Linked DNA regions of Homo sapiens. The protein of the gene in region 1 interacts with the protein of each later gene in a pairwise test. Each region holds a gene or a part of one and is shown on either strand. Other genes may lie near its edges.

The links.
Region 2: the proteins of NDFIP1 (region 1) and NTRK2 interact in a protein complementation assay, tested with the Homo sapiens proteins (one study listed by BioGRID).

Annotation. Positions count from the first base shown.
Region 1 is NC_000005.10:142,104,094-142,111,784, reverse strand, and holds the start of NDFIP1 (NEDD4 family-interacting protein 1), read right to left. Parts: upstream 3,007-7,691; 5' UTR 2,811-3,006; coding exon 2,748-2,810; intron 1-2,747. UniProt on the Homo sapiens protein: Activates HECT domain-containing E3 ubiquitin-protein ligases, including NEDD4 and ITCH, and consequently modulates the stability of their targets. As a result, controls many cellular processes.
Region 2 is NC_000009.12:85,022,696-85,027,555, reverse strand, and holds the end of NTRK2 (BDNF/NT-3 growth factors receptor isoform a precursor), read right to left. Parts: 3' UTR 502-4,860; downstream 1-501. UniProt on the Homo sapiens protein: Receptor tyrosine kinase involved in the development and the maturation of the central and the peripheral nervous systems through regulation of neuron survival, proliferation, migration, differentiation, and synapse formation and plasticity.

The DNA.
Region 1 (7,691 bases):
GAGCCTACCCTTTCTGCATAGTCTGTCACTATGCTAAATTCAAGTTGTCCACATATTACACTACCAATAAAAAGACCATAAAGACAAAACTGTGTTTGCATTTATGAATGAATCATACAGTTTTCCATTACATTTACTTGGTGAGAAAACTAGCTCAATTTGATTAACCAGATCAAATAGAAGTCAGAACAGCCCTGTGTGACAACCAAAGAGTATCATGCTCCTATCAAGTTGCCTGGACAATTCACCATCATTCTATAATTCAAAAGCCTTTTAAAAATGCATATTCGCTGACCAGGCATTTCCATGGCTAGTAATTTATGCTAAGGAAACGGTTGAAGACGTATGTGAAATAAATTTCAATGAAAAAAACTGTAAACATTCTTAGTGACCAAAGATAAGCAATTAGTTAAATTATGATTCAGCCATACAATTACATGCCATGCAGACATTAAAAATATTTTATATAGAAGACATTAATAACATTGTGTGAAGAACATTACAAAATAGAATTATGAACCTATTTCATTATTTATCTAGCATGCCTTTGTAGATACATGTGCATGATACACATGTGCAAATGTATGAATGCACATGTCTGAGAACAAGATACACATGGACACGTGCAAAAGTATGTGCAAGTATGATCGGGGCTCATAAAACTGCACACAAATGTACAAAGATATGTCTGTATACGTATATATGGGTACATAAGAGAATACATATGCATGTGTATATATCTGCTAATGCATACACCTATATCTGGACTGTGAGCCTGTGTTTTAAGTAGGTGAGTGTGTGTATATCCTTATAATCACTACTTAGCAGCCTGTGACCTTGAGGCAAGTTACTGAGCCACTTTGAGTCTTTGACAATGAGAACAAACCCTGGTTCATAAGGGTTTGGTATGAATTAAAAGAAAAAAAAAATGGATGTAAATTACTTAATACTGTGATTGTTGCATAAAAAAATCAATATTAGCTTTCCTGCATTCCTTATCTGTACACACATATACTGATCTATAACTATGTATATTTACATAGCTATAAACCCACAAGAATGCACATTAAAATATTACCTTTGGTTATCTATTTGGTTTTTGTTTAGGGAGGGTTTTGCAGTTTTTTGGGCTTTCATCTTTTACAATTTTTCTAGGAAGATTTTTTTCTCTTTTTTTTATACTTCAATTCTGCATAATTAAAAAATATTAAATGCCACACTAAGGAATACATGATTTTGATACTCCAGCAAATTTTTTATATTCTAGCAGTATGTCAGCATTACCTAATAGCTCAAGAAGATGGCAGTACAAAGAAAAACCACAGCTCTTTTGCTCGTTAGCCTTATCCAAGTCAGGATGAAAAGGATGAAATCAGATGACAGTATACAGTAGGGGTGATTTGCAAACACTGTGGTGACAGTTAAGTGGCATCTGTTATTCCCATTTTATTAAAGCAGTAAGGAACCCGCAGGCTGCCCAAGGTCATAGAAAAAAAGCATGTGCTAGATCCATGTGCTCTGAAGAGATCTAAGGATTAACTGCATTGCCACAATTTGGGCCGTGTTTATAAAACCAAGAAGTGAAATTCTTAACTAGTCATTTTGGGAGTCCAAGCCTGAGTGGGGACGGATTGCAACACATGGCTGATGATAGCAAAACAAACCAGTAACCGGCCGGCCGCACCAGGGTTAATCTACGTTTTCATCGTACTGGCTGGCTTTCCTTACTTCTAAAATATAAAATTGTAGATCGTCTAAGATAGGACATTTTATTTGATAAAAGGAGGATTGACATCTGTATGCACCGAAAGCATCTGAAACATGACAAACACAAGCCGTTATTTGCGGTTCCAATCAACATCAGTTTACCACCTGGCTCAATTCCCACCATTACTGTATGTTAGATTAACACTTCCAAAAACCCTGCAGAAGGTCTCTAAATTTCCTGGGGGAACTTAGCTACAGACGCGGAGTGAAACAAGCAGCTCTTTTCCCTGGGGCCTCAATGTATTAAATCAAACCCGAGAAAATGATCCAATCATTTCCTATACATTTCCTCCCCAGCTATGCCATCAAATCTCTTAAAACGTCACTTCCAAGCATTTAAAATACACCCGGCACACGCCCTGCAGACTTCATCGTAGCTCTCCCTTTTGGGGCATCACCACAGCCAAACATCGCCTCTTCCAAATCTACTGCAAACTGCGGGCTTGTCTCTTGCTTCATTTTTTACTTTTGTCTTAAAACGGAGGCGAGGGGGATGGGTTTCGACAAACTAGGCTCTGAAACCCTGAGCAATAGCATCTTGCTGTGGGGAGCTATCGGCAGCAGCAGAGATTTTAATCTTTTCTCTCCACCCAGTTTCCGTTTCATGCTTTTTTCTTTCTTTCTTTTCCAATGACATCAAACCAAAGGTGGAAAAATGAAAAACGAATGCCTCAGATCGATGCCGCCTGTGGGTCGCGGGTTCTGACTCAGGGACCCGCCCGCCCTGGGAAATGCGGGAAACGAGGCCGGGAGGAGGACTTTCCACCGCCGGAGTCCCACCTGGGGTCGCAGACGGGCAGGCCGGGCCCGTGGCAGCCTCGAATCCGAGCCCGGGGCCCGACCCGCCCCTCCAGGCCCAGCGCGGCCTGCCAAGCCCCGGCGTCGAGTTGGCCGCGGGCCGGCCAGAGAGGCCTGAGGCGGCCAGCGGGCAGGGCAGAGCCAGGGACCGGAGTTCGGGGCTGGAGTCGGGCGCCGCTTACCTGCTGGTACCGGCTGCCGCAGGCCGGCTCGACCGCCGCCAGCGCCGCCAACGCCAACGCCATGGCGCAGCCGGCAGCAGGGAAGCAGAGCGAGCGAGCGAGCTAGCTGAAGGGGCGCGGCCGCTGCGGCTTGGGAGCGCTGGGAGGCCGAGGGGGACGCGCCTTGGGTGGGTCTCGATGGCCGCCGCCGCTCCCGGGCGAGACGCTCTTCTCAGGCTGTAAGCACCGCCGCCGCCGCCGAGGCTCCGACGCGGCCCCTGGGGAAGAGGCGGGGACTACGACGACGGCGCTGCGCCGCCGCCCCACCCCCGACTCGCGCCGCCCTGCCCGGCCCGGCCCGGCCTAGCCTAGTCCTGCGCCGCCGCCCCGAGGTGCACCGGCCCTGGTGTAGTTGCTCCGACGACCTGAGCCTCCGAGGCTCAAGTGTTGTATTCGATTCCACTAAAAACGAATTACTAACAGGCCAGCCCAAAGCAAGGGCGATGCTGCTGATGAGCACCTCGTGCCAAGCACTGAGCTTCACCTACGTGCCCTCATCCAGCCTTCAGCACAACCGCCCTGACGCAGGGACCACAACCCCATTCTCGAGGTCGTTGGCAACCAGAGAGGTTGACAATCTTCACAGCAGCGACCTGATCCCTCGTGTCTGGCAGCAGAATCGTGGTTCTTATTCACTCCCTTCTTTTATCTGCCGTACTCATAAACCAGGGGTCAGCCAGCGACAGGGAGGGGGCCAAATCCGGTCTGCCACCATGACTGTGAAAAGTACATGAAATTCAAGTTTCAGTGTCCATAAATAAAGTTTTATTGGAACACAGCAGCACCCATTTGTTTGGTATGGCCTGCAAACCCTATAATACTTGCTATCTGACATTTTACAGAAAAAGTTTGCTAACCCTAAATCCTTGAGAACTGCTTGGATCTCAAATCCTACTTAGGGTGGATGATTATAATAGCATCCTCATGTTTATGCCATCCTTTAGTATTTTAACAGCCTCATCTGCGGAATCGGAAACAATATTTTCCAAAAAAGCTCCCTGACTCGGTGACATGAAGTCAAAACTTGAAGGGTTTGGCCATGCTAAAGGCTTTCCCGACCACAGGAACAGGTGCAAAGGGCGGTCCAGAGAGAGATTGTCTTGTGGAAGAACAGAAAGGAGGCTGGCATAGCTGCCATATAGGAGATACAATTATCAGTGTTTCACAGATGAGGAAGTTATGCCCAAAGAAATTAAATATCTCACCCAATGACACAGAGCTACTAAGGGGTGAAGCTGGAATACAACTCCATTAAGCCAGCTTTCTTACCCAGTATTGCACAACTAAATTATAAGCTTTGTGAAGACAAGAGTATTTGTCTTTTAAATCTTATTACCTCCCAATGCCATGTAGCACAGTATAGCTATATAGCAGGCTTGCAAGGTCTGTTTCTTTCACACCCAGCCATCTGCAATTGCTTCTACCCACATGTCCTACAGAGAAAAACAAAATCTTCCATCTCTGAAGCTTGTTGCAATTCCCATTTCTTCTTCATTGCCTTTCCAAGTTGGCAGTGTAGAGGTTATATTAATATGATTATTGTCTTAGCTTCTAATTTTGAAGTTTAGTTAATTATGTATTTTAAAAGAGAACTGTGTTTAGAACACACCCTGAGGTTTCTGTATATATGAGAAAATTGTAATCAATAAAAACTCTAGATGTTTACCATCTTCACTTTGAGTTCTCTCTCAGCATCCAAACTCCTCTATATCTGTCGCTATTTCCAAGTATTAGTCTCACATATTAACATGCTGGGAGAGCGAACAAATGTAGCAACATTCCAAGCTCTCAAGTCTATTTAGAGCCTCCTTACTCTGTCCCTCAGTTGTTGTTTATAATCCAGAAAAACAACATTTAAATGTAATCAGGTACAGTGAATCAAACATAATGTCCTGCCATGTAGTCTTGTATAAAGGGTGCAAAAATCTAATTTGAAATTTTTTAAAATGTCAGCAGTGGAAAGTAGAAATCCAGACTTCTTTGTCCAGATTGTCTACATTTACGTGTAAGAAAGAATAAAAAAGAATGTCCACTGGGCACAGTGGCTCACATCTGTAATCTCAGCACTTTGAGAGCCTGAGACTCGAGGATCACGTGAGCCCAGGAGCCAGGAGTTCGAGACCAACCTGGGCAACATAGTGAGACACAATCTCTGAAAAAAAAAAAGAAAAAGAAAAAAGAATTTGTCGGCCTACCACATAAGGCTATTGGAGCAACAACTGCAATCTTTATGCATGTCTGCAGTGCTGTGGCTTTTGTGGAAAAGATGTTGCTACCCTTCTATTTCTTTCCTAAATTACTTTCTCCCTCAATATCTATATACTCCCTGCATGTGGACACAAATATTTATCATAATATAAATAACAGGCTTTATCATAGAAATATTTTGCATTGAAAGTAAAAGAAAATTGATCTCCAACTTCTAATCTCCTTTTCCTATGTCCTCAACCAAAATGTTTTGTAGTCACGGTAAAGATTTTGGTCTTTTTTTTCTTGAGTTCCCCAAAGCCTCTAATAAGTAAATTGAGATTATTTGCCTTGATTTGATGGGTGGATAAATTGGAGAATTGAGAAATTGAGTCACTGCTATATTAGGCCTCCAGCTGGCAGGCAAATTGTACAACGAAGGGGAAAACTGAATTTCTGGCTCACAGATCCATGCCTGGTGCAAGCCAAGCAGACAGAGAAGATAATCCAAAGCCATAAAAATTGTGCTCTTTGGCTTCATCTCGAGATGTTGTCAAGAGAGTTTCCACAGAGAAAGTTATTAATTTCAGATTGCTGCACTTAGAAACTTATTTCCCCACAGAATAACAGTAATACTTTCCATGTGCAGTACTGCATATGTGAATTGCTGACTCTGAATCATCCCTCCTGAGAGAGAAAAGAAACATGGACAAGTATAAGCATAACTCATGTCCGTATCCCTTTCCCCCTGCAATATAGATACAAATCTCTAGGATAAATGTGACCTTCTGTCTTTCATATCCACATGAGGCTTGACCTAGGTAGTGCAGAGCTCAGTAAGTAACCAAGAAGGGTTTGTTAAATGTGTTAAATTTAGACAAAAGCCTCATTAGTCTAATATCTCATTTGAGGCCTTGAACTTCTCCAGCTAGTCTTCACAGGGCTCCAATTAAACCATGAAGTTTTATTTCTATGACTTACTACTTCTTTTAATTCTCACTACATTACCACAAGGTTCATTAAGAGCAAAAGGTAATATCTTCATATTACAAATAAAGAAATTATCCACTGATAATTACTACTGTTATGGAGCACTTCCAGAATCTTGGACCTGATGGTACATCATCTGCTTAATCTTCATAACAAACCCATTCTGCAGATTCTTGAAGAGACTCAGGAAATTTACATAACCTACTCAGCTTTGTGAGCGGTGGAGTCGAAACGCAAACTGGGATTTGTCTGGCTCCAAAATGTATGCACTGCTTTGGGTGTGGAGAGAAATACGGGACATAAATAGACAGGAGATAGAAAGTTCTAACCTTTGGAGTCTTCATGATGAAATAGAGATGATAGTAAACACTTATTTGAGACATTTTTAAAATATAAAACTTACAAGTTATTTACAACTGTGTTGAGCTATATTAACTAATGCTGAGAGATAGTGAAGAGAATTATGTGGCCAGCTGGGATAATCAGGTAAGGATTGGGAAGAAAGGGTTTTGAACGAGAAAAGGGCTTTGTTGGCCAGGTGTGGTGGCTCACGCCTGTAATCCCAGCACTTTGGGAGGCCGAGGCGGGAGGATCACCTGAGGTTGGGAGTTGGAGACCAGCCTGACCATCATGGAGAAACCCCATCTCTACTAAAAATACAAAAAACTTAGCCGGGCGTGGTGGTACATGCCTGTAATCCCAGCTACTTGGGAGGCTAAGGCAGGAGAATCACTTGAACCTGAGAGGCGGAGGTTGCAGTGAGCCGAGATCGCGCCATTGCACTCCAGCCTGGGCAACAAGAGTGAAACTTCATCTAAAAAAAAAAAACAGAAAGAAATAAAAGGGCTTTGCTGTCATGGGAAGAGAGAAAGTTGTCAACCTGAAATAACAACAGAGAGATTCTCCAAAGACAGTGAGTTTATTTGTGAATCCTCAAGATTGCAATCTGGGATATGTATGCACCTCATGAAGGGCCATGGATGTACCCAGAGAGGGAAAGGAAGGCAAAGGTTTTAAAGGCAAAATGAGCAAGGTTACATAAGTTGTTTTGAAACTATTAACCTTGGCTACAAGGATCAATAACAAGGGTGGTATCACTCCAAGGCTGAACAGACAGTTCCTAGGCAGACGTCTTTGTGTAAAGTTGTGGTGGCCTTGTTCAAGGTTGTGGTTTTCAGAAAGTGTAACCTAAAAATAGATTTTAACGTAGACATGTGTGCATGAGAGCCCCTCCTTTATGGCCTCCCGACTCCTATTTGTCGGGGTATAGAATAAGTGACTCCATTTTGATTCTTACAACTTTCACAAACTCATGAGTATAATTGTACAAAAGCTTAGAACTTAGTTTAGAACAAAATCTTAGAACTTAGCAAACTTTTAATGTTAAGGAATAGATAGAAATATTTTAGGCTTTGTGAACCATAAGCTCTGTTGCAGCTACTCCACTTTGCCATTGTATTGTGAACACAGCCATAAACAATGCCAAAGTGGCAAGACTGTGTTCCAATAAAGTCTTATTTATGATCATTGAAATGTGAATTACGTATGATTTATTTTTTTATTTTTTTTATTTTTGAGATGGAGTCTCACTCTATCGCCCAGGCTGGATGGAGTGCAGTGGCATGTTCTTGGCTTACCACAAACTTCGCCTCCTGGGTTCAAGAGATTCTCCTGCCTTAGCCTCCCGAGTAGCTGGGATTACAGGCACCTGCCACCACGCCCAGCTAA
Region 2 (4,860 bases), on another chromosome or scaffold:
ATTGTTTCAGAAAGTAAAGCAATTGACAGTGATGTTCTAGTTATCTAAGGTGTAAGTTGAAAATATCAGAATTATGGATAGATCAGACAGGAAACTTATTTCTATGACTAACCACTTACTCTCACTACCTTCAACTAATGAGCACTACAGGCATCTACAGTGATCCTATCTAAAAATACATACATATAGCTGGGTGCAGTGGTGTGCACCTATAGTCCCAGGGAGTCAGAAGGCTAAGGCAGGAGGATGGCTTGAGCCCAGGGAGTCAGAAGGCTAAGGCAGGAGGATGGCTTGAGCCCAGGGGTTTGAGTCTGCAGTGAGCTATGATCATGCTTGTGAATAGCCAGTGCACTCCAGCCTGGGCAACATTACAAGAACCTGTCTTTAAACAAAACCAAAACCAAACACAGACATATATACATATAGAATAAAGAGAACACCATGCTTGTGGAAATTCTATACATTTTTAAAAATTAATCATCATGTCATTTTTAGTCTCTCTTTTGGAGTATGTTATTTATTGTAAGACATCATTTTTATTAAATACACTGTAGTACAAGAGACTTTCCATGTCAGGTTGAGAGAAGCTGGTCACATGATTTACAAACAAAACTTTTTTTTTTTTAAACACTGTATTCAGGTGTCACTTTGAAATCAGCCAAGATGCAGTGGGTCTTAGTAAAGCAATGGACCTCAAAACAGATTGCAAAACAAGAACTGGTAAGTATTAGCACAGAGACATCACATTAAAAGGAAGATAAGCCAAATGAAAAGGAGAGTTCCAAATACCAGGTCACGATTGAAGGGGAAATATATCTGTAGAGAGATATGGAAATGTGTGTGTATACGGCCTGGATATATACAAACATCTCTCCAGATACAGAAGCAAATGCAGAATGTCCACATCTCCAGGCAGATTTGTAAGTCATAGGTAATGATCAAAGAACGCAGGGAGCAATAGTTCACCATAATTTGGTCATTTGTCAAGGGATTACATATTTAAAATCCACATTTAATTCAAAGACCTTGTATTTAAAACATTTCCAGCTGCTTTATACATTTTTTAAGCAATAGTAAGATATACAAGCTGCAAGATATAGGCCTTTACATTTCATTTTCTGTAATATTTTTCCTGTTCAAACACATGGCTACTAGCAGCTTTTATGATGCTTGCTCCAGTACATTGAACGTTCAGCTAACCTCCACTCAGGATCATTTTCATTAATGCATAGACTAAAGAAATAAATAAACATGGACCTGGCCTCAAACGCATAGACTAAAAAATGACATCCCCATCTTTTCTCATTTCGTCTCCTGAGATGTATGTTAAGATGGCAAAATAGTTGCTTGGTGGTGGTTGTTGTGAAATTCACAGTGTTTTGCCTACAACACATATACAGATATATATATATATATTTTTTTTTTTGCTTTGCTTTGTGTTTGTGCTGAATGGAGCAAAAGTATATAAATAAATAAATAAATACATAATTAAATAAATAAAGGTCAAAGGAAAAGGAGGGGAAATGCAAAAACTAAGGATATTCAAGAACCTTTGACTTGAGCAGCAGTGATTCATTCCAGCCCTGACAACAAGAAAATACCCCTTCCTGCACTGTCGTTTCTAACTATAAATCCCTCCCACCCCTCATTCTTTAGAATGACATTTGAAATTCATGTACAAGCTATCACAACCTCAGAGGCTCCACATTCCAATTATGCATCATAAAAAATCAGCTGTAACTACTAACTTAGACATTTGGAGAGTTGGGTCACTAGCCATTCCTCTCATGAGATTTCCTATAACAGTGATATATGGCCAAACCAAAGGTCAACATTGAAAATAAAAGTCCTGAGACAGGGGATGAAAAAGAAAATGGGGAAGCAAGAGAATTGAGGGTATGTGTGTATATGCAGTCATTTATTTAGTTAGATACAACAATGTTATTGGTATTACAGGCAGTCCAATTTGTGAAAAGAAAGATTCAAAGAAAGTCCATACTTGACCAGGTAATCCTGCTGTTAGGACGCTTTGAAAAGGACAGCATTCTATACTGTTAGTTGGTGCATTCACTCTAGGATGTGGGAATTCCTAAGAGTTGCTCATCTCGCTGTGGGGTCTTGGACTGCTCATCATTGGCCTTCAAGCCACTGGGCTGCCAACATTCCAATTTATATTTGGAATGCTTGAACTCTGAACTCAAGTGTAAAGGGGTCACAGTGAGACAGAGACAAGGTGAGCATAATACAAATGTGCTGAAAGACAAAAAGAAAGCAATGTTCCTTTCCTGGACCATTACAAAAAGTATCTTTCTTTGCAAGGAGCCAGAGAAAGCACTCAATGTAGTGGGATGGCTTTTATTCAGTTGTTTTGGGAAGCACATTATCTTAAATATGTCTTCCACCCATGCAGTACTGCACAGAGTTGAAAAGTGTGATGTAGTCCTACCCACGTGGAGTATGGAAGCACTAACAGCAACATGACGTTAAACAGTTTTGGTTATTTAGCATATTTTAAGCAAATTATTCATACCGCATCCTACTTATAATTACCTCTATTATTGTGTGCCTATAAATTTATACATAAACACACAAACACACTACGTATGTGCATTTGTATATGTATAAATCAAGTATTTATAACACATACATAAATACATGAAAACATCACAGGTAGCGCTGATGTGAACACATGTATAATATGAATTCTGATATAATCTTTTATAGCATAGTTCAAAGTGTTTTCTAAATAAGCCTGATTATGACATTGGTTCAGTGTACAAGAATTTAGCTGAATTTAGCTGAAGCTAAGAGCATGATTATATATCACAATATCTCAGTTGCTTGTCATCTCCTGTATTTCCTTTTGTTCTTCTAACTTCATATACTGCTTCATGAATGTGTTAGCATGCTTTCTTTCCTGAACTGCTTGTTTGCATATTAGAGTCTCTAGTGGACAGAACCACGAAGTTCAGAGTGAGAGTACTTGGATTCAGTCCCAATGGTGCTGGAAGCTAGGCTGGAGACCTCTAGCGTGCCTCTGAATGTCTCTGAGTCTCAACGTCCTCATCTACACAAAATAGGAATAATTTGCTAACACACATGGAAAGTGTTTGGAAAACTATTCAATGACTTCTAAATGGAAATGATTGTCAGACCAGGTTTGGGCTAGAGAATTAGGTTTGTCACTGTTATACTGTTGTAGTTTTCACAAATTTGATGGAAGGCCGTATTTGGTGATCATTACATTTTAGAACGAGGATGCCACTCTTCTAAAAATCAGACCATGAGAAAGGGGGTGGTGGAGGAACAACAATGAATAATTTCAGATATTCTGTGGCTCGTTCAGCTACTTTAAAAGCAATCTGATATTCTTTCAATTTGAGATGTCTCTGAAATCAGCACATACTCTTAAGACAACAGAGATAGTAATAGTAATAATCAGCAATAAAAATAACTATAAAACTTTGCACTTGCATAGAACCTTTTATTTCAAGACCTTTAGGGACTTGTCAGAAGGTATAAGTGGAATTTTATTTTATTTTTTGCTTTTTTCTTTCAGAGAAAAAAAAGACAAAACTGGAATGGGATGCTCCCAAAGTCTCATTTGCCTTAAACAAATCTTTGCTCTAAAATTGCACATTCCTCCTTGAATTTGATCCCTTAAATTATTACCTACTTTATTCTCTTAAAATAAAATAAATAACTTGTAGCTTTTCCCCCGAGATTAGCTGGCCAGACATGCAGCGTGACAAACCTGTGTTGGTTTTTGCTGATGGAATCTAGAAAAGTTTTTGTACAAATCTGCCCCTTCCTTACTGCGTCACAGAGTTCTACAGTGTTTTAAGAGTACCATGGGTCCTTAATATGATACATACATGCACATGTATGTATATATATGTGCACATATATATCATGGAGATATGGCTTTCATTATGTTATTATGTGTATTCTAGAGGGTTTTTTTAAAATCATCAACAAAGAGAACAAACGACCCAACTCTCATCTCTCATAGGCCAGCATATAACTTGAATGGACGTAAGGTTTATCTTGTCAACTCCCTCGCTTGACTGCAGTTGCTACTGGATTTCCTTTTGTTCTGTTAATTTGCACTTTTGAATTTTTGAGAATTGGCTTTCAAAGCCTTTAATGAAAAATAAGGTGTTCCAGTAATTAACAGGCGCAAGCAAAACCTAAAACAGAGCTATCGCACCTTCAGAAACAAATATGAAATAACATGACCTAAGATGAATGAAAATCACTCCCTTTCAATCTGGCTCATGTTATAAAGATGTCAAGTTTAGCAAAATTCCCCTCACAGAGGGTAGCAAGTTTTCTTGAGGAACAGAAATATTTTTCTTTCTTGGTATATCTGACCATTCAAATAGCTGTAAATTTCTATTTAAATTTGAGCCCTCTTTTTGCAAAACCAATGACTATGCCTAGAAGCACACTTCCAGTGCTTGGTCTGGGCACAGCCTCCCGTTGGCATGCTGTGCCAAATTTTGTATTTTGACTTTTTGAATGGAGTGAAGGAAACAAAAACAGCATACTGACAATGGAGTACACTTGGAATGAAACCACTCTCCCAACTAGAGCCCAGAGCAAGGGACTTGACCTGTGTACACTGAACATGAGTGCATGTGATGCCCTCAGGGTGAGGTTTCCTTTCCCTTAGGGATTGATTCTGCCCTTCCCACAGTCCTGTGGGTTCGACGTGGATGAGGATTTCCAGGCTTCAGGGTCCATATTCATTAAAACCCATCACCACCGTACAACGCAGAGACATTGATACTCAGCTAATAAACTCCATTAGCTTCCCCTAATTGTATAAGTCATACCTTTTTATGGATCTGCTCTACC